Linked DNA regions of Homo sapiens. The protein of the gene in region 1 interacts with the protein of each later gene in a pairwise test. Each region holds a gene or a part of one and is shown on either strand. Other genes may lie near its edges. The genes, in order: QDPR, ANKRD13A and PAH.

Evidence for each region.
Region 2: the proteins of QDPR (region 1) and ANKRD13A interact in a two-hybrid assay, tested with the Homo sapiens proteins (2 studies listed by BioGRID).
Region 3: the proteins of QDPR (region 1) and PAH interact in a two-hybrid assay, tested with the Homo sapiens proteins (one study listed by BioGRID).

Annotation. Positions count from the first base shown.
Region 1 is NC_000004.12:17,493,396-17,502,090, reverse strand, and holds part of QDPR (dihydropteridine reductase), read left to right. Parts: intron 1-231; coding exon 232-372; intron 373-8,695. UniProt on the Homo sapiens protein: Catalyzes the conversion of quinonoid dihydrobiopterin into tetrahydrobiopterin.
Region 2 is NC_000012.12:110,026,758-110,037,461, reverse strand, and holds part of ANKRD13A (ankyrin repeat domain-containing protein 13A), read right to left. Parts: intron 9,758-10,704; coding exon 9,696-9,757; intron 8,954-9,695; coding exon of another isoform or gene 8,951-8,953; coding exon 8,820-8,950; intron 7,985-8,819; coding exon 7,827-7,984; intron 6,818-7,826; coding exon 6,704-6,817; intron 5,016-6,703; exon of another isoform or gene 4,752-5,015; intron 3,666-4,751; coding exon 3,505-3,665; intron 1,202-3,504; coding exon 1,134-1,201; intron 104-1,133; coding exon 1-103. UniProt on the Homo sapiens protein: Ubiquitin-binding protein that specifically recognizes and binds 'Lys-63'-linked ubiquitin. Does not bind 'Lys-48'-linked ubiquitin.
Region 3 is NC_000012.12:102,849,846-102,860,549, reverse strand, and holds part of PAH (phenylalanine-4-hydroxylase), read left to right. Parts: intron 1-5,217; coding exon 5,218-5,414; intron 5,415-5,748; coding exon of another isoform or gene 5,749-5,765; exon of another isoform or gene 5,766-6,722; intron 6,723-7,599; coding exon 7,600-7,735; intron 7,736-8,793; coding exon 8,794-8,863; intron 8,864-10,704. UniProt on the Homo sapiens protein: Catalyzes the hydroxylation of L-phenylalanine to L-tyrosine.

The DNA.
Region 1 (8,695 bases):
ACATTTTGCCAGTGTATAGGTAAGGAAGCTGAACCTCAGGCAATCCCATGGCCTGGATTTGAACCTGTGTCTCTGACCACTGAGCCCTGTGCTGTTTGTGTTAGACCTTGCTGTAGATAGGGACCTGGGGACCAGGAGGGAGGGCCTCCCTGAGTGTGGGGCTGCATGAGTTGAGCTCACCTTTTGGTTTCTTTCCTGGGAATGCTGAGCCCACATGTTTTTTTCACTCAGCTCTCTTTAAGAACTGTGACCTGATGTGGAAGCAGAGCATATGGACATCGACCATCTCCAGCCATCTGGCTACCAAGCATCTCAAGGAAGGAGGCCTCCTGACCTTGGCTGGCGCAAAGGCTGCCCTGGATGGGACTCCTGGTAAGCCTTTATTTCCCTATCTGTGGAGTGGGGTTGCTTACCTTGCTTGCTGGGGCTGCTGGGCACTTTCATGGGATGAGGACTGTTAAAGCCTTTACCCTCTAAGCTGCTTAACAGATAGATGGATTTTGTCTTCTTTTGGGCCTGAATCATTTTAGGGAGAAGAGTTCTGATCTTTTGTTTGCCTGTCCTTATGTTTATGGTGGTGGTAAGGAACGCTATGATCTGGTAACCCCCATTTAGTTTATTTATCTGTGATCTACACTGGAATGAATGGTTTAGTGGATATTAATTAATTAATAAACATGGATTATTATTATCACATTGAATCCATGTGTTCCAGGGAAGCAGCTTAGCAGCTGGAAATAGCATAAGTTTAAAATGAGAGAGGTTCATTTGGCCAGCACAGTGGCTCACACGTGTAATCCCAGCACTTTTGGGAGGCTGAAGCAGGAGGATTGCTTGAGCCCAGGAGTTCAAGACCAGCCTGGGCAACATAGTGAGACCCTATCTCTACATTAGAAAACAAAAAGAGAGTGAGAGGGTTGGGGGTGGATTCTTTATCCTAGATGTGTGACCCTGAACCAGTTCTTCAGTCTCTGACCAGATGTCTACTGTAGTTTCCTTAATTGTAAAATAGTGACAGTGACATCTAACTTGAAGAGTACTGTAAAACTGTAGAGGTGTAGCTATGTAGAAAGTGCACATGGTAGGCACCCATAAATGGCAAGTCTTACTGTTATTCACAATAAATGGTAGGTCTTATAGTCACTCTTTTCATTTCACATATATTCTCACTTTAATCTCATCAATATTATCTTTTTCAGTTTACAGGTTAGGAAACTAAAACTTGGAGAGTTAAGTAACTTGTCTGGGTTTGTGCAGGAAGTAAGTTGCAGACTTACTTGAACCAAAACCCTAATCATCTACCAACTGTGTATTTTTTCCATTATGTCATTTCTTTTGCATTTTTTATGACCTGTATTAGTTTGTTTGGGTAGCCACAGACTGGGTGGCCTAAACAACAGAGATTTATTTTCTCATAACTCTGGAGGCTAAAAGTCTGGAGATCAAGGTATCTGCAGGGCTGGCTCCTTCTGAATCCTCTTTTTTTATAGATGGCTGCCTTCTCCTTTTGTCTGCATGTGGTCTTCCCTCTGTGTGTCTGTCCTCGTTTCCTCCTCTTCTAAGGAAACCAGGCATATTGGACTAGGGCCCATCTCAATGGGCTCATTTTAACTTTGTTGCCTCTTTAAAGATCTTCGAATACAGTCCCATTCTGAGGTACTGGGAATTAGGACTTCAATATACGAATGTTGGGGGGATCTATTTCAGCCCATAACACTCCCTGTGGGATAGGGCTAAAGGAATTTAAGCAGGGGTAGAAAGGGGCAGCATAGGGAGGCAGAAAGTGTCTACCTCAACTACCTAAGTTGAACTCTTCTTTTAAAAAAATGGGAGCTTTTGGCCGGGTGCAGTGGCTCACACCTGTAATCCCAGAACTTTGGGAGGCCAAGGCGGGTGGATCATGAGGTGGAGATTGAGACCACCCTGGCTAACACGATGAAACCCTGTCCCTACTAAAAATACAAAAAATTAGCCAGGCGTGATGGTGGCTGAAGCAGGAGAATGGCGTGAACCCAGGAGGTGGAGCTTGCAGTGAGCCGAGATCGCGCCACTGCACTCCAGCCTGGGCAACAGAGCAAGACTCCCTCTCAAAAGAAAAAAAAAAAAGGTGGGGGGAGCTCTTTTTGACTCTCTTGTAAGTGGTAGAGACCTTGGGACCCTTCTCAGTTGTTTATTTTTTTAGAGACAGGGTCTCACCCAGGCTGGAATGTAGTGGTATGATCTAGCTCACTGTAGCTTGGAACTCCTGGGCTCAAGCAATCCTTTGCCTCGGCCTCCTGAGTAGCTGGGACTGCAGACACACACTGCCATGCCTGGCTAATTTTTGTATTTTTTGTAGAAGCAGGGTCTCGCTATGATGCCCAGGCTGGTCTCAAATTCCTGGCTTCAGGTGATGCTCCTGCCTTGGCCTCCCGGAGCACTGAGACTACTGGCATGAGCCACTACGCCAGGCCCCTTCTCAATTTTAATGTAACTCACTGAACTGTGAGGCTGTGACTACTAGCAATACCTTCCCTCTCATTTTCTTCTTCCATTTCTTAGAGCATGTGATGTTACAAGTCCATGGCTATAGCAATCATTAAAGCTGTGTAAATGTTAGCTGTCTGGTTGGTTGAGATCTGATTTTTATTTAAGATGACACGGAACAGAGGCAGTAGAAAGTAAACAGAGAAATGAGTCTTAGCTTGACATTTTAAAAAACAAAACCCTAGGACCAAAAGACTGATTTTTCTAAATGACAGAAGAGTCTCCTACTTTCCTTTGGTTTGCAGGTATCCTTTGATTACATTTTGGGTAGTGGTTAAGACTGCAGGCTCTGGAACTGTGCACGTTGGACTTCTCTTAAGGCTCTGCCACTTACTGTGACACGTTCGGCAAGTTACTTCGCCTTTCTGAGTCTGCGTTTTGTCATCTGTAAAATAAGATAAAATAGTGTCTCCTTTATATATATGGTGGTTGTACCTTGTAAATGTCTCAATGGATCTAAATGGATGAGAAAGGTATTACAGAGAGTCAATAGTAAGTGTGAGCCATTATTATTATTTACTCCAGGCTTATTTCTGCCCAGCTGTTCTGCCTCAGATGTTAATGAATTTGTTCATCTTTAACCTCTTAAGTTAGATTTTGTTAAGCTATTAATAATTTGAGTCATGAGATCTTTTAAGTATGCTGCAGACCTCAGAAAAATCTGGGGAAATAGATCTACAATTTGAAAGTAAATGATGAATCAGGCTTAGTAGTCCCTCAAACTCAAGAAGATTTGTTTGCACATCAGAAGTTTTTCACTTGGAAGGATACTGAGAAAACCTCACCCTCCTATTTCCAAGTTTGTATTTCTAGACTGTCTTCTGTAGGACAAACAGTATTAAAATGGTGTTCACTTTTGTTTACCATTAAAGGATCTGTGCTGTGATTGGAAATCAGTTTTGGGGGACCACACTGATCATTCAGTAATTTGGAAGTGTTGACCTTCTTAGTGAAATGTCTTTTTTTTCATATCTTGCAAATAACCCCTTTTGTGTCCCCAAGGAAAGGTCATTCTTTAGAATTAAGCCATTACGGTTGCTATTTGCTTGTTTCTTTCCTTTGTCAGAGTCCCTGCTCTTGTGTTGTGTTGTTCGAATGGAGTCAAGAGAGAGCTCTGGGATTTTGAGGACCAGGGCTGGGTTAATGAGCACTTATGCCCTGGTTTATTTTAATCACTGAAGAGTTTGTTATGCCCCCTGATTAAACAGAGAAGCTAAGGATGGCGAAATATTCTTCTTGTGCTTCCAAATAGCTCTTTGAGACCTTGACCCTCTTTTGCAATTTGAGGTAGTTGTTGAAGCAGTTTTGTGATTGGTCCCTTGGCTGGGCTGTCATCCCCCCACCTCCCGCTGGACTTGCGATGCCTCCACAGCAATTACATCTTAAACAGTGTGTGTGCCGAGGATTTTAGGGAGCCTGATGACCTCTAGAAGAAATAGTGGTTTTCAGAAGGTGGAGAAGTTTACAGTGACTCATCATTCCTTCTTGCTATCATTATTCTGTGATAGCAGCATTTAGTGAGCAGCTACAGTTGGGCACAGTGGGGGAACATAAAGAGGAAAGACTCCATTCCTGCCACATGCCTGCGGGGCAGAGGGAAACCTACCTTAATAAAAGACATCCCTTGCTTCTGTCAGCAAATATCCATCGAATAGTGGGAGGAAAGGAAGACCAATAGGTAGCAGGTATACACAATGTCAAAATTTGCTCAAATGGTACACCCTAAATGTGTTTAAGTTTATTGTGTTTCAGTTATACCTCAACAGACTTGGCGAAAAAGAAAGAAATATTTTTAGGCATCTGTCTTCTGGGTGCTTGGCTTGTTGGGCTAAGCTTGATCTTATTTCATCACCAGAGGTATCTGTAAAGTAGGTCCTATTATTTTCCCTTGATTATGGAGGAAAAAAAGTTCAGTGATTTTAGGTGCCTTGTCTAAGACAACCTAGCTAGTTAGTAGCAGATTGGTCTGAGTAATACATTGATCAGTAATTAATATATAATTATAATCAGTAATTATAGCAATTACTGATAATATAATTATATAGAGATAATATAATTATATTCAGAGCCTCCTCCGGCAGCAAGGGTGCGGGTGGTGTGAGTGTGAGACCGGGCTACATTACGGTCTAAGCGGAGTGCTCTTGGTGGGGGTGAGTCCACCTCTGAAAAGGTTTTGTTGAGGGAGCTGATTCAAACAGGGTCTTGGAAAAGGACTTGCTTTGACAAATAGAGCTTATGGGAAAAGACAAGGCACTGTATTAGTTTTTATTTAAATAATTTAATCAGTTTTTAAATTGGAAAACTAACCAATGCATGTAGTAAAAATTCACATGGCACTAAAAGAAACACAATGAATAGGAAGACTCTCTCCTACTCACACCGCTGATCTCTATGGCACTCCCTCCCAGGCCCAACTACAGTGATGGCTTCTCAGGTGTCCTTTGGGAAGCATTCTGTGCCCATTCTAGTGTGTGCCCATGTCACATTCACATACTTTTTAAAAAGCACCATAATTTGGCAGGGCGCGATGGCTCATGCCTGTAATCCCAGCACTTTGGGAGGCCACAGCGGGTGGTTCACCTGAGTTCGAGACCAGCCTGGCCAACATGGTCAAACCCCATCTCTACTAAAAAATACAAAAATAACCAGCTGTTGTGGCAGTCACCTGTAATCCCAGCTACTCAGGAGGCTGAGGCAGGAGAATCGCTTGAACCTGGGAGGCGGTGGTTGCAGTGAGCCGAGATTGCGCCACTGCACTCCAGTCTGGGTGACAGAGTGAGACTCTGTCTCCAAACAAACAAAAAAAGAGGCTGAGGTGGGAGGATTGCTTGAGCCCTGGAGGTGAAGGATGCAGTGAGCTGAGATTGCACCATTGCACTCTAGCCTGGGCAACAGAGTAAGCTTGTCTCAAAAAAAAAAAAAGAAAAGCACCATAATTTGATGACTCGATAGAGGCTTTTCCATGCCTTATTCTTTTCACTTCATCATAGATTAAATAATTTAAAAGTTAGTTTGTCTGGAATATTGAGAAACTCACGAGTTACTGAGAATCACCTACCATAGTTTTAATGAACAGAGCTACCAGTTTGTTCTTTTTTTTTTTTTTTTTTTTTTTTTTTTTTGAGACAGTTTTGCCCTTATTGCCCAGGCTGGAGTGCAATGGCGCAATCTTGGCTCACCGCAACGTCTGACTCCTGGTTCAAGCAATTCTGCTGCCTCAGCCTCTGGAGCAGCTGGGATTACAGGCATGCATCACCACCCCCAGCTAACTTTGTATTTTTAGTAGAGACGGAGTTTCCCCACGTTGGTCAGGCTGGTCTTGAACTTCTGACCTCAGGTGATCCACCTGCCTTGGCCTCCCAAAGTGCTGGGATTACAGGCGTGAGCCACCGCACCTGGCCCCAGTTTGTTTTTTCATTCCCACAGTTTTTGAGTGGCCACCATTTGATTAAGCCCCATTATCCTCCTTTGAGAAACCCACCTATTGCTCTTTTCTGAAAGCAGTGAATAAAGTATTTATTTATTTATTTATTTATTTATTTTCCTTTTTTTTGGAGATATGGTCTGGCTCTGTCACCCAGGCTGGAGTGCAGTGGCGTGATCTTGGCTCACTGCAGCCTCGACCTCCCGGGGGCTCCAGCCGTCTTTCCACCTCAGCCTACCGGGTAGCTGAGACTACAGGCGCTCGCCATCACACCTGGCTAATTTCTGTATTTTTTGTGGAGACAGGGTTTCACCATGTTGCCCAGGCTGGTTTCAAACTCCTGGGCTCAAGAGATCCACTTGCCGCAGCCTCCCAAAGTGCTAGGATTACAAGCCTGAACTACCTCACCTGGCCAAATAAAGTATTTATTGATTGCCACCTTTTGGTTTGGGATACATTGGTGAACAAAACAATAAAAATCCCTGCCTCTGTGGAACTTACATTCTTCTGGGAATGAAAGAGCCCTTTCGAGTTTATGAGATGTGTCACGTTTCATGTCGTTTTCAGGAAAGCCTATTTAGCTTAGCATTGGATCCCATTTAGCAGGGAAGAACCAGAGGCTGAAAGAGCTGCTCGCCCAAGTCACAGTGGTGAGGAATCACCTGGGTTCCAACCCCTGGCCTCGAAGTCCAGATTCTGGGTTCTTTCTGGTGTGCTGTGCCGTTCCTGGGAGCCAGGGAGCTGCCTTGTGCTTCTTCGTCTTTCTAACACTGAGCCTAGGGATTCCCACATAGAAGAGGCTCCATGACATGGGGTGGGGTAAGTGGGTTTTGATGCCCGGGAGCAGGCAGACCCTGGCAGCCCCTTTCCAGGCTCTGGCTTTACAGGCAGCAGAGTGATGGCAGGTTGGTTTGATGGTGTTAAGGCCAGAGTTGTCACCATCCCCGTCATGCCACAGTCCTTCCACTGCTGATAAGGAAGGAAATGCCCCGGATGGGCCGCAGATGACTGCTTGATCTGGAGAGGAATCATCTATGATAATATGAATAATGATGAGCTGGGAGAGTGGGAGAAGCATCACCCCCTCCCTGCCGCAGTCACTGGGAGAACATCTCCCTGGCAAGGTGCTGAGCAAAGCCCCTCCTACACCAGGCTGGGCTCCCTCCGCCCTGATCGGGTTCTGTGCGTGCCCTCCATGGTTTCCAAGGCCCTTGTTGGATGCAGTCTCCTTCCATCCTCAGCAGAGCCTTGTGAATAAATTGTGATCTGAGTTACCACTCCCACTGACAGATGGAAAAGCAGGCCCACAGAACCTGTGATTTTTTTTGGTGGCTGGAAAAACAGGAGTTAGGGCTGCACTTTTTGAATTCCAAGTTGATGACCCTTTTTGCAATTCCTTATTGCTGTCCGAGGAAAAAGAGTTGCCAGTGACCTGCTGAGAGTCATGAATGACAATAATGGCCAGGATTGAGTGTTCCTCTGTGCTCAGTACTGTACAAAGGGGATTTGTTAACCTGGAAAAAAAACAATCAATGGAGTTTTATTACTTGACATAATTAAGGAGGATGCTGGAAGTATTCTCCAAAGCAGCGTCTCTCCCAGGAGGGTTTCATGGGGTGATGGAGAGGGGAAAGGGTGTGTCATTGCATGTGGAGGAGGGGTCCCAGTGGCACAGATGCAGTGAGTCATCACGCCAGCACATAGTCACATGTTCTGGTGATGAAGCTGTAGCTCCTCCCGGGTGGAGACTGTAGCATGGTAATGAGGAAAGTCCACTTGGGATCATCTCTATAAGTTGCTGGTTTCACCTGACTTGGTGACTGCATTCCATGCAAGTTGTGGGAAAAACCAGGCTGAAGGGCAGGAGCCTGTGAAACAGGCTGATTGTTCAAGCTGATGAAACTCCTATAGTCCTTGGAGACCCTCCCTGTCTGCTACACTTGTACATGGTATTTTATTTGATTGTTGTATTATCCTTAGGATTTGGGATTGTCATTCCCATTTCACGAAATGGGAAACTGAGGATTCCAAGGTTTAGTAGCCTCTCCCAGTGTCAGTCACTAGCAAGCAGCAGAGCCTGGACACGAAGCCAGGTAGTCGGGTTCCAGGGCACATTACTTCTATTGATTTGATGGGAAACCTTCATTGAGTGCCTGTCCTGTGCTAAGGGTATGCTCACAATTAAGTACTCTATTCCTGTGTGTCGTTATGAGCCCCTCTGGATCACACCTGAGTTTATACTGATAAGGTGATTAGTAGGTTGGGGCCCCTAGACAGCCTCAGGATGGAGCTACTTCTTAGAATGACCAAGCAATTAGGAGGTTAGAACTTTCAGCTCCACCTACCGACCTCCTGGAAGGAAGCAGGGGCTGGAGATTAAGCTCTATAAAAACTTACAGATGTGATAAGCATCTGGGTTGAACACATGGAGGGCACTGGGAGGGTGGCGTGGCTGGAGCAGGCGTGGAAGTTCCATGCCCACCCCCTCTCCTACCCTGCCTCTGTGTCATTCCACCTGGCTGTTCCTGAGTTGTATCCTTTATAATAAACCAGTAACTATAAAAAAAGCGTTTGCCTGAGTTCTTCGAGCCATTCTAGCAAATTATTGCACCTGAAGAGGGGGTTGTGCAAACCCCTGATTAAGCTTGTTGGTCAGAAGTCTAAGTGGCCCAGGACTTGTGACTGCCATCTGAAGTAGGGTAGGTCTTGTGAGACTGAGCCCTTAAATCAGACGGGAGTACAGTG
Region 2 (10,704 bases), on another chromosome or scaffold:
GAGCTCCATGGCTAGCTGCAAGTCATTATCAAAACGGCTTGTCTCGCTCAGGGCGCTGGGGCACAGGCCTTCTGTGCTGGTGAGGAGGCTCTCCTGGATGGCCCTGGGTTGGAAAACAGATAAAAAGGGAGAGTCACTACTATCATCATCATGGTGGCAGCAGTAACTACATTTCTTAACCGCTTACCAAGGGCACACTGTGCCAGGCATTTAATATGCATGATGCCAATTAATCCCACATAACTGGCGGTGTAGGTGTTGTATACGGGTGAGAAACCCCACAATCTTGCCCAAGACCACCCAACCAGTAAGTGATAGGGCTGGGAATTGAACTTGGATCTGTTTTAAAGCAAAACTCAGGTTCTTCATCAACAGGCTCTCATAGACACCTTAAGTATAAGTCTTCGTAAAATGAATCCTCGCGGTTTTTCCCGTAATCTCTGGAGCTGTTCCTCCAAACTTCCTTATCTTTACAATTATATAAACTTCCCACTGAGGACATCTAGGCCCTGTGATCATACATCATTCATAGAAGATCAAACCAATCAGAAAAAACTGACTCAGTACGTTTCCCCCAATGGCACTGACCTGTGAACCAGTCAGCAATTCTATCACCCATTCCTGGAAACTTGCTATCAAGAGTCTAGAGTTATTATAAGTAACTGCCACAAGAGGAAGCAAGAGAGCCAACACTTTAGTCTTTTTTTTTTTTGAGACGGAGTCTCGCTCTATCGCCCAGGCTGGAGTGCAGTGGCGCGATCTCGGCTCACTGCAAGCTCCGCCTCCTGGGTTTGCCATTCTCCTGCCTCAGCCTCCCGAGTAGCTGAGACTACAGGTGCCTGGCACCATGCCCGGCTAATTTTTTGTATTTTTTTTAGGAGAGACAGGGTTTCACCGTGTTAGCCAGGATGGTCTCAATCTTCTGACCTCGTGATCCGCCTGCCTCGGCCTCCCAAAATGCTGGGATTATAGGCGTGAGCCACCGCTCCTGGCCTACTTTTTCTAGTCTTTCCTGCCAGTTTGTGGCACCGTACATCTGCCTGAGGACCAAATGCACAGTGCCACGCGTCTGCTCGCCTGTGTCCAGGCCTGTGTTCACCCTGGTTTATTCCAGAGTCACGTCAGTCAATCACCTCTCATACTGGGCGTCATAGGTGTTTGTCTGGCTGATCCCTCCATTCGAAGCTGGTCCTGAAAGTTCCTGGCAAAGACAAATGTGATAGACATGAATACGTCTTAGGAGAAATTGGTGCCATTCTGGTAAGGAAACGATGGCAGCAAGAACCAAATTAAAAGTCTTTCCATGACCATTATCAATAGTGCTGTGTGAAAAGCTAACAGGGACTTGGGTTACCTCAAAAACAACACCTAAGTGGGAGGTAGTAACATGCCACAGCCTAACTCACAGCCACAACCTTCTCATCCTTTGTACAAAATCAGTCTCTTAAATACAGCTAACCCACGTGGAAGATATACACAACGAAAAGCAAAAACACAGCTGACCTTGGGCAAAGTTCAAGTGACCAAAGCAGGTTTTTGTTTTTTTAGAGACAGGGTCGCACTCTGTTGTCCAGGCTCAAGGGTAGTGATGTGATCGTAGCTCACTGCAGCCTTGACCCCAGGGCACAAGAAATCCTCCCACCTAAGCCTCCTGACTAGTTGGGAATACAGGTGCACACCACCATACTTGGCTTTTAAAATTTTTTGGTAGAGGCTAGGCATGGTGGCTCACACCTCTAATCCCAGCACTTTGGGAGGGCAAGGCTGGTGGATCACTTGAGGTCTGGAGTTTGGGATCAGCCTGGACAACATGGTAAAACCCCGTCTCTACTAAAAACACAAAAACTAGCTGGGTCTGGTGGTGCGCACCTGTAATCCCAGCTACTCGGGAGGGTGAGGCATGAGAATCACTTGAACCTGGGAGGCAGAGGCTGCAGTGAGCCAATATTGTGCCCCTGCACTGCAGCCTGAGCAAAAGAGTGAGACTCTGCCTCAAAAATTAAAAAAAAAAAAAAATTTGGTAGATATAGGATCTCACTATGTTGCCCAGGCTGGTCTCAGACTCCTGGGCTCAATCAGTCCTCCCATCTTGGCTTCCCAAAGTGCTGGGATTATAGGCATGAGCCACTGCACCCAGCCAGTAATTCTTCTAGGGCAAGATTAGAAGACACAATTCAATACTGGTAGTCTTTGACTTTGGCTACTTCCCTTGTTAAAACTTATGGTCAACAAGGTTTATGAAGCTACTTGGGAGCTGGCGGGGGGAGCTAAGCTCACTTACATAGGGAAAGGAAAAGCATACCAGGCTGATGGTGATGTGCAGGGGTCTTCTCCCAGGATGCCTCCCAAAGGGAACATGCTTGCTTTGGGGTCTGGCTCGGAAAACTGAATGGGTCTGGGAATGGGGCCATGGTGGTGGCAGGGGGAAGTGGAGGAGGTAGACTCACATTACACAAGCACTAAGACTCAGGAATAGAACCAGAAAGCTATAAGCTTGAACCAGTGAGGACGCTGGAGTGTGAGCACTGTTCTCAAAGCAGCAGCCCTGTGAGGGCAGGGGCTGCTTCCCAGAGAATTCCCAGCACCTGGCACAGAGCCTGGCACAAAGAAGGTACTCTGCAAATATCTGAATGAAGAATGGAAGAAAAAGCCAATTAACAAATAAATGGACTGCAGGAACCCAGGACACACCAGAGGGTGCTGGAGGCAGACCAGACCCTACCCTAGTAGAGCCAGGAGGCACAGAAGGAAGGAGATGGAAGGAGTTGATGTTAGGGGAGGAGGACCTCAAGCCTTGGACTGTCCCAGGTAGGTGAGGCATGGAGGGAGAACCAGATATGACAATAAAAGGCAACTGTTCTACTGGGCACAGTGGTGCATGACTTTAGTCCCAGCTACTTGGGAGGCTGAGGTGGGAGGATCTCTTGAACCCAGGAGTTTGAGGGTGCAATATGATCATGCCGGGGAACAGCCACTGCACTCCGACTTGGGCAACATAGAGTCACACACACACACACAAAGCCTACTGCTTACACAGGTCTGTCCTGTCCTTCATTTTCTGTTTCACTAGAGACCCAGAGAGAGTTTAGGGAGATGGTACCCTTTGTGGAGGAAGTGGGATTCAAATCCACTTCACTACCTTCATCCGAGACTACTGACACACAGGTAATCCTTCAGGAAAAATATGATACTGCTTCAGTGCTAGAAAATGATGAAGCACATCTCAAAAAGTACAGAATTACAAGCTATGTGCGTGAATATGAGGAAAAGGAAAGTCTGCCTGAAGACATCTTGTGAATGGTGCTGACTGGGATTATGTAGATGGTCTCTTACATAACAAGCTTTTGTAAGAAGACCAGATGCACAAAGTATAACCTATGCAAATACCATGAATGTGTCAAACTTGATATTTAGAATAAATCTTTCAGATTAGCCAAACACTGAGGCTAACCCAGAGGGTAAGACCTCCCACGCCCTGCCATTAGAGTATTCTGATAAACACACCTGGCTCCTGCTGGACTCCAGCAGACTTTGCTGGATGGCAAACTGCATTATCTCGTAATCTTCATCTTGCAAATGCACATTTCTGCCATTGTCTTGAACATAGTAAGATTCGGGAATTTCAAACACAGATTGATCAACCTCAAAGTTTGTGATGTGGGAAGCTGAAACAAAAGGCAACCGTCCAGTGTCTGAGTTCATTACATTTCCACTCCAACTTTTTGCAAAAATGTTGTACATTAGAAAAAAAAGAAAGGCTCAAAATTATAACAATCAAGGCTTACTATTATATGAGAGATTCTGAGGAAGCATGACAGAAAAAAGTGACAGAATACAGCTTTTTTCTTTTTCCTTGATTTTAGTGGAAACAACGAACACAGTCATAAAAAAATACACAAGACTATAAAATGAAAAGCGCAGATTTCTCCCCCTAAACATATACGCACAGTCACACCAATGTGTTTCTTCCTTTTGCAGGAAGATATATGGTAAATATATAAAAGTATATATAAAATATCTGAACACTTAAAAATGATAATAATTAAACAAATGCCTGTGTGCCCTTCACCTAGCCTAAGACACAGAACACTATCAATAACTGCCGGGCGCGGTGGCTCACGCCTGTAGTCCCAGCACTTTGGGAGGCTGAGGCAGGCAGATCACAAGGTCAGGAGATCGAGACCATCTTGGCTAACATGGTGAAACCCCGTCTCTACTAAAAATACAAAAAAAAAAAAAAATTAGCCGGGCGTGGTGGCGGGCACCTGTAGTCCCAGCTACTCGGGAGGCTGAGGCAGGAGAATGGCATGAACCCGGGAGGCGGAGCTTGCAGTGAGCCAAGATCGCACCACTGCACTCCAGCCTGGGTGACAGAGTAAGACTGTCTCAAAAAAAAAAAAAAAAAAGAAAAAGAAAAAAACACTATCAATACCATACTGCGGGCACATCCCTTGTTAACAATATTCCCTTCTTCCTCTCCAGAGGTAAATACATAATTCAGAATAGTTGTTTACACTGCCTAGCTCTTCTCTGGAGCTTGCCACATGTATATCATCCTAATAGTTTGTATTAGCCTGTTTGTGAACTCGACATAAATGGAATCATGCGGAATTTATTCTTCAAATTGGATTTTCTTCATTCAACATTATGCTTTTGAAATTCAACAGTTTTGACGCACATAGCTATAAATTTTTATTTTCAATACTATATGTTATTCTGTTGTATTAATAGAGCACAATAGCGCATTCTACCATCTCGGGACATTTGGGTCGTTTCCAGGTTTCTGCTGTTATGAATGGATGCTGCTGCCCAGTACTGGGGTCTCCAGATGCTCATGTGCATAACTTTCTTTAGGGTACACATCTAGGAATTGCTAGGTCATCCACATCTTCAGTTTATACAGTAATGCCGAATGTTTTATTCAAGGAACTATACCAATCTCCTCTTCCAGCCAAGAGTGCACGAGTGTTCCTTAGCTGCACAACCTCATGAACACATCTCACCCAACTTTGTTGCTACATGGGAATGTAAAGGTGTATATTATTGTCGAGTTCAATTGTTTTTATTTGAAGTCTTAATTTATATACATTAAAATGCTATCTTTTAATTCCTCCTACTGGTAGACTACAGGGGAGAAACATAGGACCATCATGATAGTTGCAGAAAACACATCTCACAAAAATCAATACTTAAAAATGGTAATAACTCTCAGCAAACTAGAAATATAAGAGAATAATGTCCTCCAACTAATAAGGGACATTTATAAAAAACCTACACAGCTAACATCATACCTAATGGCACAACAATCCTTCCTCCCCTAGAACCAGGAACAAGACAAGGACAGCCATTCCTACCACTCTTACTCAACATTGTACTAGATGTCCTAGCCAGTCCAGTAAGTCAAGAAAAAGAAATGAAAAGCTTAAAGATTAGAAAGGAAAAAGTAAAATTTTCTTTATTAATAGACAACATGACCATATATGTAAGAAATTCTAAGAAATCTACAAAAAAGTGTAAGACAAGTAAATTCAGCCATGTTACAAGATAAACAAGGTCAATCCTGGCCATGCAATTGTGTAAGAAAAAAAAAAGATAAAAAATTTTTAAAAACGATTCAAGGTCAAAATACAAAACTCAATTATATTTCTATATACTAGTAACTGGAAATGAAATTAAGAAAATAAGTCCATTTACAATTGCATCTAAAATCATGAATTGTATTGATGGCAAAGGAGTGTAAGGAAATTTGGGGGCATATGGAAATGCTGTCTACCTTGACTATGGTGGTGGTTACACAGATGCATACATTTGTCAAAATGTGGCTGGGTATGGTGGCTCACACTAGCACTTTGGGAGGCCGAGCTGGGTGGATCACTTGAGGTCAGGAGTTCCAGACCAGCCTAGCCAACATGGTGAAACCCAGTCTCTAATAAAAATACAAAAATCAGCCAGGCATGGTGGCACGCACCTGTATTCCCAGCTACTTGGGAGACTAGGCAAGAAAATCGCTTGAGCCTGGGAGGCAGAGGCTGCAGTGAGCAGAGATTGTGCCACTGCATGCCAGCCTAGGTGACAGAGTGAGACTCTGAGAAAAAAAAAAAAAATGCACTGAACCATCACACTTAAAATGAGAGCATTTTATTGTATGTACATTACACCTCAATAAAGCTGATTTTTAAGAACATCCTTTCTTTTTAATATAACTAGGATCATATATATTCTACAAGTTTTTTTTTGCTTAATCTAAACTAAATCTGAAATTTTCTTTCATCCAACACAGACATCTACTCCCTCAGATATTCCAGCTTCAGAGTGAATTATGAATATGATGACTGAATTATAATTTTTTTTTTTTGAGATGTAGTTTTGCTCTTGTTGCCCAGGCTGGAGTGCAATGGTACAATCTCGGCTCACAGCAACCTCCATCCCCCCGCCTCTCCCCCAGTTCAAGCGATTCTCCTGCCTCAGCCTCTCGAGTAGCTGGGATTACAGGCATGCGCCACCACACCCGGCTAATTTTTGTATTATTAGTAGAGACAGGGTTTCTCCATGTTGGTCAGGCTGGTCTCAAACTCCCGACCTCAGGTGATCCACCCACCTCGGCCTCCCAAAGTGCTGGGATTACAGGCATAAGCCACCACGTCCGGCCATAAATTTTTTTTTAAATAACAAAACTAAACTTTGTATTTATTTATTTTTTTACCTGAATCAGCCTGGGTCCCTTCCACATTTTGAGATACAGATTCTTCGGCAGTGCTACAGCCATTAACATTTCCAAATGTAATCCGTGCATTTAAGACATGAAACAAGGGAATTTCTAACAAACAAAATAAAAACTTTTATAAGTAAACTTTACTGAGAATAACAATAATAGTTATCATTTACTAAGTGCTTACTATGCCAAGTACTTTGATAAGTATAATTTTATTTAAGCCTCATAACAACCCTTCCCAATACACAGACGGGAAAACTGAGATTGAGAGTTGTGTATTTTCGGTCAGGCGCGGTGGCTTACACCTGTAATCCCAGCACTTTGGGAGGCCAAGGCGAGCTGATCACCTGAGGTCAGGAGTTCGAGACCAGCCTAACCAACATGATAAAACCCCATCTCTACTAAAAATACAAAAATTAGCTGGGCGTGGTGATGCATGCCTATAATCCCAGCTACTTAGGAGGCTGAGGCAGGAAAATCGCTTGAACCCAGGAGGCAGAGGTTGCAGTGAGCCAAGATCATGCCACTTCATTCCAGCCTGGGCAACAGAGCGAGACTCCATCTCAAAAAAAAAAAAGAGAAAATGAGTTATGTATTTTCTCCTAGATCACAGTGAGTAAGTGATCAAGCCAGGGTTCAAGTATCATGAACATACAACTATCCAAAATTAATACTCTTCATGAGTAGTATGTATGATATATACATATATAGCATTATGCATACTAGCTTGGGACGTAGATCATATTTACATATCAAAGGATCTTGGTGTCAACTGTCTTCCTCAAATAATTATCTAATTTGAAGTCTCACTGAATTAAGGTTTGACATTAAAACAATGACTGTGTCATGTTTTTATGCCTTTTTATATCTGTCAGCACCATTTGCAAATAGAAATGATGGTTGGAGATCTCTTGACTTTGATACACAAAATGAACCACTAATCATAACACTTCTTTAAATCAAACCACAGGAGAACTCTGACCTCCTCTGTTATGTCTATAAGCTACTTTGACCTAAAGCACTCCAATTCCCTGAAGCATCCTGCCACCCACATGCTGCCACCCACAAACATGGGCAGAACCTCCAAGTGTTGCTGAAGTTTATTTAGCAGTACCTATTTTGACAGGAAATCCAGGTGGGAATTCCAATTTGATGAAATCTCTCAGTCTTGCAAAATGAGCACTCGTTCGAGCCATTAGGTCAATGATGGGAATGACCTGCTCCACCAGAGAGAGGGGAAACTCTTCACACATCCACAACATTGCTTTAAACCTGCAGAATTCAACCAAGAAAAGACTGAGGTCATCTCCACCAGATGGGAAAAGGAGATTATTGCTATGCAGTAGGCTAGACAACAGCAGCTTTACTCCACACTCTGCCCAGTCATCTCTTAATTCAGACCTATTAAAGGTCAAATGTCTAGGGCCACAAGGAATTCACATCACCCTAAAATCTGGCAATAAAGGCAAGCGACCTGCATGACAACCTGCCACGATCAAAGCCTTAATTGACAGCAAGCATGAAGAAATGATAGCGGGTGGAACAGTTTCATTTGAATTTGATCAGCTGAAGCTGGTTAGCAATAAAAAAAAAAAGGAATTCTTACATCCAATCTAGATTCTATTTGGAAAGGAGCTAATAACATGGACAATCTACTGTTAGCTTTCATGGCAAAGTAATTTTAAAATTATTTTTTATAAAAAGGGGCAGAGGAGGCTGGGCGCAGTGGCTCATGCCTGTAATCCCAGCAGTTTGGGAGGCCCAGGCGGGCGGATCACAAGGTCAGGAGTTCGAGACCAGCCTGACCAATATGGTGAAACCCTATCTCTACTAAAAATACAAAAATTAGCTGGGCGTGGTGGCACGCGCCTGTAGTCCCAGCTACTCAGGAGGCTGAGGCAGGAGAACCGCTTGAACCTGGGAGGCAGAGGTTGCAGTGAGCCGAGTTCGTGCCACTGCACTCCAGCCTAGGCGACAGAGCGAGACTCCGTCTGAAAAAAAAATAAGGGTGGTGGGGAGGGCAGTGGAATGATCCAACATAACACCATAAAACAGCACAATTTCTGAAACATACATAGGTTGAAAATGGCAGCTGAACCTCTCTTACTTCTGTGTTCTAATCGTCAGCTCTTTCGGCCTTCCAATGTCCCTGTCTTTCAGATCAAACTCTTCATTGAAGTACTCATCAGGCGTGATGGCTGTGGGGTTGTTTGCAGTAGCACATTCCGTGGTGAGGTCCTGCTGAGCCAGAACTCAGGAGAGTCAGAAATGCCAAATGATGTTCACAAGTGAAGGCCTGTGGCACTCAGTGTCTGAGGTGGACGTGTTAACCAGCTAAAGACCGGGAAGTTCTATTCACTAACTTTTTTGCATGGAACAAGAAAATCTATGAGGATATCACCAAACTACACAGGAAGTGTAATGGATTTCTTCATTTTAAAATATTTCTCTACTCTCCTTTACATTTTTATCTCCTGATTATAACAAAGAAAAAAAGAAAGAAATATCTGAAAGTGCATGAGACTTGGAAGACTTGGAGTTGAAGTTCTAGCTGTTTCCCTGTCTAGCTTTGATAGTGGAAAGGTAATTTCATTTTTCTGACCCGCAGGGACATCCACTGTACCAAGTTCATATAGTTACTGTGAGCATCAAGTAAGAAAATATTTGTTAAGGTGCTCTGTTGCAATATAAAGTCCTGAATCCTTTTTAAGTTCCATTTCTATAAAGAGGCCCCTCGTTTATAATGGATAAGAGGGAAAGCACCTGATTTCTATAATCACTACCCCTCCTCTAAAATCCTTATTTATTTTCAAAGAGTCACTCATCTAATTCTCTTCCAAAAGAGTATCTCAAATTCCAGCTTGGGGGTATCTTTGGCCTTTACATAGAGTGGGCTGTTCAGGATCCAGTAAATGCCATCCCAGACACAGACAAGTTGTTTCCTTTCATCTAACTGCAATGAAAGCTCATTGCTTCAACTTACCCCTTGTGCACCAAATTGGTGTTCCACAGTTCCCAGCAAAGATTCCAGCGGGTTCCTGTCTGCTACAGAGGGGTAGGGAGTTTAAAGTCTAATATTATATCTCACTTGTGGCTATAAAAAAAAGATCTTCATTAAAGTTTCTGGTCCAAGCTACCTCATTAGGAAATGCAATTACAGACTGGCTGATCAAATCATTCACAATAACCATAAACTAATTTATCCTTTATAGGGTGCTTTTCATGAGGATCTCTAAACTAGATAAACAGTTGTAAGAATTAAAGCAGAATAATGGGAAGAGTCTGGATTTTGGAGTGAGCCAGACCTGGATTCCAACCCCACCTTGGCCACTCGCTACCCATGTGTTCTGGGCCTCAGTTCCCTCATCTGTCAAAGTGGAGTAATGGCAATGGTGGTGGTGGTGCTGGTGAACAATTACTGCATGCTTACCACATACTGCAGGCGCCATTCTAAAGGCTTCCACGTCGTAACTCATCTAATCCTCTCAATAACTCTAAGGAAGGTTGGGTATCACCTGCATTTCACTGCTGAGGAACTAAGGCACAGAGCAGAAGTAATTTCACAAGGCCATAGAACTGGTGGGGCTGGGATGGGGCTGGGATGTGGCAACCACATGCAATGTTTTTGCTTGGACCCCAAGTTCTGTCTAAATCTTTCATCACAATAGTTTGGACTAAATCACTCATTCCAATGATAAATATTCTCAAATGTCCTTATCTCCTTTTTTGGCTGAATTCAACAATTGTTCTTGATAACACATAAACAAGCCCTCACGAATAGCTTTAATTACAGCTGAGGCCAACTATGGGGAAACACCTCCAAGAATGAGTCAGACTAAGGAAATTTTCTTTCCTTTTTCTTTTTTTTGAGACAGAGTCTAGCTCTGTCACCCAGGCTGGAGTGCAGTGGGACAATCTTGGCTCACAGCAACCTCCACCTCTGGGGTTCAAGCGATTCTCCTGCCTCAGCCTCCCCAGTAGCTGAGACTACA
Region 3 (10,704 bases), on another chromosome or scaffold:
TTGTTCTTTTGGCTTAGGATTGTCTTGGCAATGCGGGCTATTTTTGGTTCCATATGAACTTTAAAGTAGTTTTTTCCAATTCTGTGAAGAAAGTCATTGGTAGCTTCATGGGGATAGCATTAAATCTATAAATTACCTTGGGCAGTATGGCCATTTTCACGACATTGATTCTTCCTGTCCATGAGCATGGAATGTTCTTCCATTTGTCTGTGTTCTCTTTTATTTCTTTGAACAGTGGTTCAACTACAAGTTCTCCTTGAAGAGGTCCTTCACATCCCTTGTAAGTTGGATTCCTAGGTATTTTATTCTCTTTGAAGCAATTGTGAATGGGAGTTCCCTCATGATTTGGCTCTCTGTTTGTCTGTTATTGGTGTATAAGAATGCTTGTGATTTTTGCACATTGATTTTGTATCCTGAGACTTTGCTGAAGTTGATTATCAGCTTAAGGAGATTTTGGGCTGAGACAATGGGGTTTTCTAAATATACAATCATGTCATCTGCAAACAGGGACAATTTGATTTCCTCTTTTCCTAATTGAATACCGTTTATTTCTTTCTGCTGCCCGATTGCCCTGACCAGAACTTCCAACACTATGTTGAATAGGAGTAGTGAGAGAGGGCATCCCTGTCTTGTGCCAGGTTTCAAAGGGAAGGGAATGCTTCCAGCTTTTGCCCATTCAGTATGATATTGGCTGTGGGTTTGTCATAAATAGCTCTTATTATTTTGAGATACATCCCATCAATACCTAATTTATTGAGAGTTTTTAGCATGAAAGGCTGTTGAATTTTGTCAAAGGCCTTCTCTGCATCTATTGAGATAATCATGTGGTTTTTGTCTTTGGTTCTGTTTATATGCTGGATTACATTTATTGATTTGTGTATGTTGAACCAGCCTTGCATCCCAGGGATGAAGCCCACTTGATCGTGGTGGATAAGCTTTTTGATGTGCTGCTGGATTCGGTTTGCCAGTATTTTATTGAGGATTTTTGCATTGATGTTCATCAGGGATATTGGTCTGAAATTCTCTTTTTTGTTGTGTCTCTGCCAGGCTTTGGTATCAGGATGATGCTGGCCTCATAAAATGAGTTAGGGAGGATTCCCTCTTTTTCTATTGATTGGAATAGTTTCAGAAGGAATGGTACCAGCTCCTCCTTGTACCTCTGGTAGAATTCGGCTATGAATCCATCTGGTCCTGTACTTTTTTTGGTGGGTAGGCTATTAATTATTGCCTCAATTTCAGAGCCTGTTATTGGTCTATTCAGGGATTCAACTTCTTCCTGGTTTAGTCTTGGGAGGGTGTATGTGTCCAGGAATTTATCTATTTCTTCTAGATTTTCTAGTTTATTTGCATAGAGGTGTTTATAGTATTCTTGATGGTAGTTTGTATTTCTGTGGGATCGGTGGTGATATCCCCTTTATCATTTTTTATTGTGTCTATTTAATTTTTCTCTCTTTTCTTCTTTATTAGTCTTGCTAGCAGTCTATCAATTTTGTCGATCTTTTCAAAAAAACCAGCTCCTGGATTCATTGATTTTTTGAAGGTTTTTTTGTGTCTCTATCTCCTTCAGTTCTGCTCTGATCTCAGTTATTTCTTGCCTTCTGCTGGCTTTTGAATGTGTTTGTTCTTGCTTCTCTAGTTCTTTCCATTGTGATGTTAGTGTATCAGTTTTAAATCTTTCCTGCTTTCTCTTGTGGGCATTTAGTGCTATAAATTTCCCTCTACACACTGCCTTAAATGTGTCCCAGAGATTCTGGTATGTTGTGTCTTTGTTCTCATTGGTTTCAAAGAACGTCTTTATCTCTGCCTTCATTTCGTTATGTACCCAGGAGTCATTCAGGAGCAGGTTCTTCAGTTTCCATGTAGTTGAGTGGTTTTGAGTGAGTTTCTTAATCCTGAGCTCTAGTTTGATTGCACTGTGGTCTGAGAGACAGTTTGTTATATTTTCTGTTCTTTCACATTTGCTGAGGAGTGCTTTACTTCCAACTATGTGGTCAATTTTGGAATGAGTGCAATGTGGTGAGAAGAATGTATATTCTGTTGATTTGGAGTGGAGAGTTCTGTAGATGTCTGTTAGGTCCGCTTGGTGCAGAGCTGAGTTCAATTCCTGGACATCCTTGTTAACTTTCTTTCTTGTTGATCTGTCTAATGTTGACAGTGGGGTGTTAAACGCTCTCATTACTATTGTGTGGGAGTCTAAGTCTCTTTGTAGGTCTCTAACGACTTGCTTTATGAATCTGGGTGCTCCTGTATTGGGTGCATATACATTTAGGATAGTTAGCTCTTCTTGTTGAATTGATCCCTTTACCATTGTGTAGTGACCTTCTTTGTCTCTTTTTATCATTGTTGGTTTAAAGTCTGTTTTATCAGAGACTAGGATTGCAACCCCTGCCTTTTTTCATTTTCCATTTGCTTGATAGATCTTCCTCCATCCCTTTATTTTGGGCCTATGTGTGTCTCTGCACGTGAGATGGGTCTCCTGAATACAGCACACTGATACGTCTTGACTCTTTATCCAATTTGCCAGTCTGTGTCTTTTAATTGGAGCATTTAGCCCCATTTACATTTAAGGTTAATATTGTTATGTGTGAATTTGATCCTGTCATTATGATGTTAGCTGGTTATTTTGCTCGTTAGTTGATGCAGTTTCTTCCCGGAATCAATGGTCTTTACAATTTGGCATGTTTTTGCAGTGGCTGGTACCAGTTGTTCCTTTCCATGTTTAGTGCTTCCTTCAGGAGCTCTTGTAGGGCAGGCATGGTGGTGACAAAATCTCTCAGCATTTGCTTGTCTGTAAAGGATTTTATTTCTCCTTCACTTATGAAGCTTAGTTTGTCTGGATATGAAATTCTGAGTTGAAATTCCTTTTCTTTAAGAATGTTGAATATTGGCCCCCACTCTCTTCTGGCTGGTAGAGTTTCTGCCGAGAGATCAGCTGTTAGTCTGATGGGCTTCCCTTTGTGGGTAACCTGACCTTTCTCTCTGGCTGCCCTTAACATTTTTTTCCTTCATTTCAACTTTGGCGAATCTGACAATTATGTGTCTTGGAGTTGCTCTTCTCGAGGAGTATCTTTGTGGCATTCTCTGTATTTCCTGAATTTGAATGTTGGCCTGCCTTGCTAGGTTGGGGAAGTTCTCCTGGATAGTATCCTTCAGAGTGTTTTCCAACTTGGTTCCATTCTCCCCGTCACTTTCAGGTACACCGATCAGATGTAGATTTGGTCTTTTCACATAGTACCATATTTCTTGGAGGCTTTGTTCATTTCTTTTTACTCTTTTTTCTCTAAACTTCTCACTTCATTTCATTCATTTGATCTTCAATCACTGATACCCTTTCTTCCAGTTGGTTGAATCAGCTACTGAAGCTTGTGCATTTGTCACGTAGTTCTCGTGCCATGGTTTTCAGCTCCATCAGGTCATTTAAGGACTTCTCTACATTGTTTATTCTAGTTAGCCATTCATCTAATCTTTTTTCAAGGTTTTTAGCTTCTTTGCAATGGGTTCGAACTTCCTCCTTTAGCTCAGAGAAGTTTTATCGTCTGAAGCCTTCTTCTCTCATCAAAGTCATTCTCTGTCCAGCTTTGTTCCATTGCTGGCGAGGAGCTGTGTTCCTTTGGACGGGGAGAGGTGCTCTGATTTTTAGAATTTTCAGCTTTTCTGCTCTGTTTTTTCCCCATCTTTGTGGTTTTATCTACCTTTGGTCTTTGATGATGGTGACACACAGATGGGGTTTTGGTGTGGATGTCCTTTTTGTTTGTTAGTTTTCCTTCTAACAGTCAGGACCCTCAGCTGCAGATCTGTTGGAGTTGGCTGGAGGTCCACTCCAGACCCTGTTTGCCTGGGTGTCAGCAGCGGAGGCTGCAGAACAGCAAATATTTCTGAACACCAAATGTTGCTGCCTGATCATTCCTCTGGAAGCTTTGTCTCAGAGGGGTACCCGGCCGTGTGCGGTGTCAGTCTGCCCCTGCTGGGGGGTGCCTCCCAGTTAGGCTACTCGGGGGTCAGGGACTCACTTGAGAAGGCAGTCTGTACGTTCTCAGATCTCAAACTCCATGCTGGGAGAACCACTACTCTCTTCAAAGCTGTCAGACAGGGACATTTAAGTCTGCAGAGGTTTCTGCTGCCTTTTGTTTGGCTATGCACTGCCCCCAGAGGTGGAGTCTACAGAGGCAGGCAGGCCTCCTTGAGCTGTGGTGGGCTCCACCCAGTTTGAGCTTCCCGGACTTTTAAAACTAACGACTTTTAAACTATAGTTTGCATCAGAGTCACCTGGGGAGCTTACTAGAATCCAGATATGTGAGCCTTCCCTTCCCCAAGAGATTCAGGATCTATGCGGCCTGGCATATGTACTTGAACAAGCTCAGTGAAGAGAAGGTATGAGGCATTTTATACCTTAGCATGGATTTATATATTTATTTTCTCTCCTTTGTTCCAATATTTATTTATTATCCTTGATCTAGAACTTATTTATTTAGTTTTCTAATTGACAAATAAAAATTGTATATAATTTTTAATTATATACAATTATATAATTGTATATAATTATATAATTGTATATAAAATATGGTGTACAACATGATGTTTTGATATATGTATACAATGTGGAATCTTAATTAGTATGTATTTAAATACCTTTATAACTTCCCAGGAGCAGAAATATCAAACCCAATAAGTGCATGCCTACCAAACAAAGGGGATCTCAGATTCGTGGCCTACATATTAAATCCAGTTTAGCCCACTGGTTTAATTGCTTTAGCTAACACCATAAAAATACACTGTGTTGCTTTAACTTAGATGCCCTGGTTTAGAAAGGGAATATATTCTCCTGCCAGCCCCCATTCTCCTTATTGCCAATCTCTGCAACTTTACAGCTTTGTGATACCTGACTGGCCCGTGCAGGTAAGTGAATTTCTACCCCAGGTAAGCAATTAGAGAATTAGAAGAGTAGAAAAACCAAGTGATTTCCCGAAAGTGAGAGCAAATCCTCATTGTAGCCTGTATCACTGCTTAACCAAATCACCCTTTCATGTGGGAAATCAAAACAACAATGTTTCCTATATCAAGATGTGGAATTTTTCTCTTTCAAATAATGTATGAAATTCACTGTAGCAAGTGATGGCAGCTCACAGGTTCTGGTCCCCGACTCCCTCTGCTAACCTAACCTGCGTTCTGCTGTGCCCCTGCCCTGCTTGAGACACCTATTTTGTGCCTGTATTCTAGTGGGCAGCCCATCCCTCGAGTGGAATACATGGAGGAAGAAAAGAAAACATGGGGCACAGTGTTCAAGACTCTGAAGTCCTTGTATAAAACCCATGCTTGCTATGAGTACAATCACATTTTTCCACTTCTTGAAAAGTACTGTGGCTTCCATGAAGATAACATTCCCCAGCTGGAAGACGTTTCTCAGTTCCTGCAGAGTAAGTCCACATCAGGGTCAATGGCCCTGCAGAAAGTTGGGGGAGGATTGAGGCAGAGGAGAGGGAAGGGGAAGACAAGTATGTGGAGGCAAGTATGAAAGCATGTGCTTGTAGGAATGCATGCAGGTTGATTCCTCCAGGAAGAACTAAATTTCACTGTGCTCTGCCTTCCCTCCAGCCCCTACTGTGTTTATCCACTTTCATTCAATCAAACACCTGAGGCTGTGGATTTTGCCGTGTACCTGTCCCTGAAAAGTATTTTCTTTCACACTTAAAGCCCAAGGTGCTTCACTGAGGTTTTTTTTTGTTTTGTTTTGTTTTGTTTGCCCTGTAGTTCCTGCTGTGTTATGAGTTAGGAGTGTGTGTTTGTGTAAGAAATGTGCTATTTTCGGGGATGGTGCCAAGAGCCCTGAGCTCTGAGTCTGTGCATCTGGTATGAATCCTGCCTTCAATCCTCTCCAGCTGAGTAAACCTGCCTCAGTTTTGTCATCTGTCAAATGGACACTGTATCAACTCTTTAGCTTTTCCCATAGGGAAATTATGAGAATGAAGTAAGGTGCTGCATATGGAAACAACCAGCACAGTCTTGCATATACAGCAGGTATTCAGTGAATTTGGACTGAATTGAAATCTGAGTAGCTTAATAGGTAAGTACATTGAGTCGCAAGCCTCTCTGTACAGTATATCCAGGTGAAATGGGTGTTACTCTTTCTGTCAAGAGGATGTTAATTTAGCAAAAACAAAATAATGAACTAGCACATATTGAACACCTACTGTGTGCCAGGTAGAATAAGCAGAAGTGGGGAGACAGACTACAGGTTACAAAATTTTCTATATATCAGAGCTGTGCAGAGATGGGCCACTGTGGGGGCAATGAGCCAGGGAAATTACTTGGCAGGAAGGGAAGTTGTAGCCAGGACAGTTTGGGGGTGAGTTAGATGACCTTTTGGGTCCCTTCCATTAGAAAGTCTTTGCTTCTTAGATAAAGAAGGGAGTAAGGGTCCAAGCAGAGTGTGCTTCAGCCTGAAGACACAGAGAACATGGGGGCAAGAGGCAAGGGGATCTCAAAGACTTCTTTAGCTAATTACTTCCATTGCCATGGCCAATAATAAGAATAATAAAACAGTAATACTAGCAGTTGGGAAGCTACATAATAGTAATTAAGAGAACAGACTTTGAAGCTAGACTGCCTGTGGCTGTGACCTTGAATAAAACCTTTAACCTATCTCTGTCTCAGCTTTCCCATCGGTAAAGTGGGCATAATAAAAGTGTCTACTTCATAGGGCTATTGTGGGGATTAGTAGCATATCTAAAGTAGCTTAAAACAGTGTCTTACATACAGTAGGTCAAATATAGTGTTAGCTATTATTACCATTATCACTGTCACTATCCTTATCCTCCAAAGTTTGCAACAAACTGAGAGACAGATACAGGAACCATAGAGATGGTGATCAGAGGTCAGCTTTAAAATTGAGCGATTTAGAGAATGTGATATAGATATGCACACAAATGGACTTGCTAATATTTTACCCCTTAATTAGGTAAACTTACCTGCCAATTCATAGAGCATAGTCCATTGCATGGCCAAGAGCAGACTGGAATGAGGTCCTCTGTGAACAATCAAGAGAGAAAGAGCAGTACAGAAAGAGTTAAATTGACAATATTCATATTCTCTTCCCAAATGCTCCAGTCAGACAGGTCACTGCTACTTATGGGGTAGACTGTGTGAGGTGCAGTACAGAAGCTGGAAGCACTCTATCCATACTCTTCCCTTCTGGGAAATGAGGTTCAAATTCCCTCTTCACTCTAGAAGCAGGAGAAGTAGGGAATCATTGTTCCACCCTAACAAATGGTAATGAAAGCTAAATTTATTGCATGTTTCCAATGTGCTAGGCTCTGTGCTAAGTACTTTGTATTCATTAGCTCTTTTTATTCTTGGAACATTTCTAAGAAGTATCTATCCACATTATGCAGATGAGGAAACTGAGGCTCAGAAATGGGAATTTACTTGATCCAGATCACCTAGCTAGAAAGCAGCGAGGCAGACATCTGAAGCCAAGTCTGCCTAGCGTCAAAGCCTATGTCCCTGGGCAGTTATGTGTACTACTCCACTACCTAAAGGTCTCCTAGTGCCTCTGACTCAGTGGTGATGAGCTTTGAGTTTTCTTTCTTCTTTTCATCCCAGCTTGCACTGGTTTCCGCCTCCGACCTGTGGCTGGCCTGCTTTCCTCTCGGGATTTCTTGGGTGGCCTGGCCTTCCGAGTCTTCCACTGCACACAGTACATCAGACATGGATCCAAGCCCATGTATACCCCCGAACCGTGAGTACTGTCCTCCAGCTACCAGTTGCCAGGCACAATGAGCGCCATCTTTTCCTGCTGCAAGAATGAGGTTTGGGTTCATTGCTGGCTGGTCCACAGGACTAGTTGTCTAGACTGTTTGCTGGTAGTACTAAAAACAATTCATCTATTCTGGAGATTTGCTCCATCCAAGTAGATAGACCAGACTGATTGGAGATTTGGTCATCCTGTGATCCAATAACTCAGAACTCCCTTGGCAGTGAGAATGAGAGATCCCAATCAAGTTCCAAAGTCAAAGCTACGAAGTTGCAAATGAGAACAGGAACAAGTGGCAGCCAAGCTATCTCAATACTTCCTAAGTATACATCTAGATTACTCTTATCTTTCTTTGCCTAGATTGTGTATTGGGTAGAGGTAGAGAATTGCAGCCATTATGCTTCTTACTTGGGTGTTTCGTTATCCCCTTAGTCTGATAAAACTTATGCAACTTATAAAAAAATTAATGGAACATCCAAAATTGTTTTTCCTTGCCCATAAAGTTCATTGCTACAAATCCAAAAAGACCTGTTCCAAATGGACATAGCACATACAGTGTTAAATAAATGTAGGTTTTCTTCCCTCACTGCTGTCCACCTCCAGACTAACAGAAGAGCAGCACTGTTTTTGTTTTAGTTCCCAGTGGAATAGCTGAGCATATTGTATCTGCCCAGGGAAGTCAATACCAGGGAGAAGACAGGATGAGAAGTGTTCATGACTCATAGCTCACTTAGGTATATGGGAGCATGTCCACAGGAATATTAGCTCTTCTGCCTGGTACCCCACTGGGGATACTCTTAAGACCCTTGGCTGCTGTGCCCTACCCTGCACCTGTCTCTTATTTTTCCTTCCTTTTCTTCTTTTTACCTTGTACCCTGCCTTTTATGATCCCAACCTCTGCATATCACTTATTCCTGGGAGAGGGATCATAAGCCTAAAAGAGTTATTTCCATTCTTTCTGCCCATTCCTCATGTAGAAAGACTGAGTCTGGCTTGGCTTAAACCTCCTCCCCTCCGAGCTCTCTGTGCTTTCTGTCTTTCAGTGACATCTGCCATGAGCTGTTGGGACATGTGCCCTTGTTTTCAGATCGCAGCTTTGCCCAGTTTTCCCAGGTAAGGAATGGATTTTTTAGCCTTCTAGTTATAGGTCTGTGACCTGAATTTCTCAAATGAGTTGAGCCCAGGGAGGGGTCCTCATGCCCTCTGCAAGAGCGGAAACCAGGTACAGTTCTATGATCCCACCTGAAATGGGTGTGTGGTTCTGGGAAGCTAAATACCCATTTCGGAGATCAAGCATGGGGTTGGTGAATCACTCATCCTCTGAATCATATGTGTGTTCTTCAGTGTACTAATCTCATTTTTCCTGCTAGAGCCTTTCATCCATGAAAGCCTCCCTGATTCCCATGCAGGAACTACCTCACCTTCTTCCAATCTCTTAGTACATTCCCCTTACCTTTTCAGGGCTGTTGCAACTTTCTACCTTGTCAGGCAGTTATTTGTGTATATGCTTGAATTAAGTGAGGTGACATTTGCCAAGAATCCAATGCTGATACCCTGACTTAGAGTTAACAAAGAAAAAAATGAGCTGAATATCTTATCACCATCATCAAAGCTGCAACCCTGCAACCTAGAATTTCATTCATCTTTCACAGTGGTTAACAAGCTCAAAAAAAAGCTTTCTTTTTCTTTTTCTTTCTTTTTTTTTTCTTTTAAGGCAAGGTCTCACTCTGTCACCCAGGCTGGACTGGAGTGCAGTGGTATAATCACGGTTCACTGCAGCCTCAGACTTCTGGGCTCAAACAATCCTCCCACCTCAGCCTCCTGAGTGGCTGGGACTACAAGCACATACTTTCATGCCTGGCTGAATGTTTTAATTTTTGTGGAGACAGAGTCTCACTACATTGCTGAGGCTGACCTCAAACTCTTGGCCTCAATCCTCCCATCTCACCCTCCCAAAGTGCTAAGATTACAGGCAAGAGCCACCACACCTGGCCAAAAAAGAAAGTTTTGGGCTGAGTAAAATAATGCTACCAATTCTCTCCAGGCACTGAGAGGCAGCCTAAAACCATGGTTTGGTAGCTGGGATCATGAGAAGGTTGAATGGTGTTCTGATGTACCTAGGCTCCAACCCTGCCACTAACCAGCTGTGTGACCTGGGGTTACATTATCAGCCACCCTGTGCCTCAGTTTTAATAAAAGTGGATCAGTCAAAAGCCCTCTCCACCAGTCATCTTCCTCACAAAGAAGCACAAGAATCAAATGGAATGACCTATGAGCAAATGCTGAGCCAAGTATTGGGATTTCAGAATAATGGGATTGTGTGTGAATTTAATGGGCATTTTCCCTCAGCTGGCAGAAATAAACATTCCCACTGTCAAATAAAGAAGCTACCACTAAATATTTGAAACAAACAAACAAAAAAGTGGAATTTATTGCTTGCTAAGTGAGGGAAAACTGTACTTGTAAGATGCAGCCTCTCTAAACAAAAGGAAAATTACTTTTATGTGAGGTTTGGGGAATTATGGAGTTCAAAGATCGTTGGACTTTTGGAAGTGGAAGTGTTTCGGGATTAGTTGAACTTTAACTGTAGAAGCATCACCAATGACATTCAGAAGTGTGGTTACTGCTGCCAAGATATCTTTGATTGCTTGGGACAGTTTTAAAATCTGGATTTGTTACTGTGGCCAAAAAACAATCAGATTTTTCCTTGAAGAATAGGAACCTTTTATTCTTACCACCAGAAGTTAGTTTACGAAGTCAGAGGCTAAGTGGCAGTCCTCCTTAAGCCATTTCCACTTTGGGGAACCCCACAGAAGAGTGGACAGTTGCTCAAGTCAACAAACAGGAGCTCTTGGGGCATCAGTGTCACATGGTTCCAACTTTGATCTGGACAGTTCCAAGGCAGCAAGTCATGTTGAAAGTTTCCTGAGAACATTCCTTTTTGATCAGAGGCA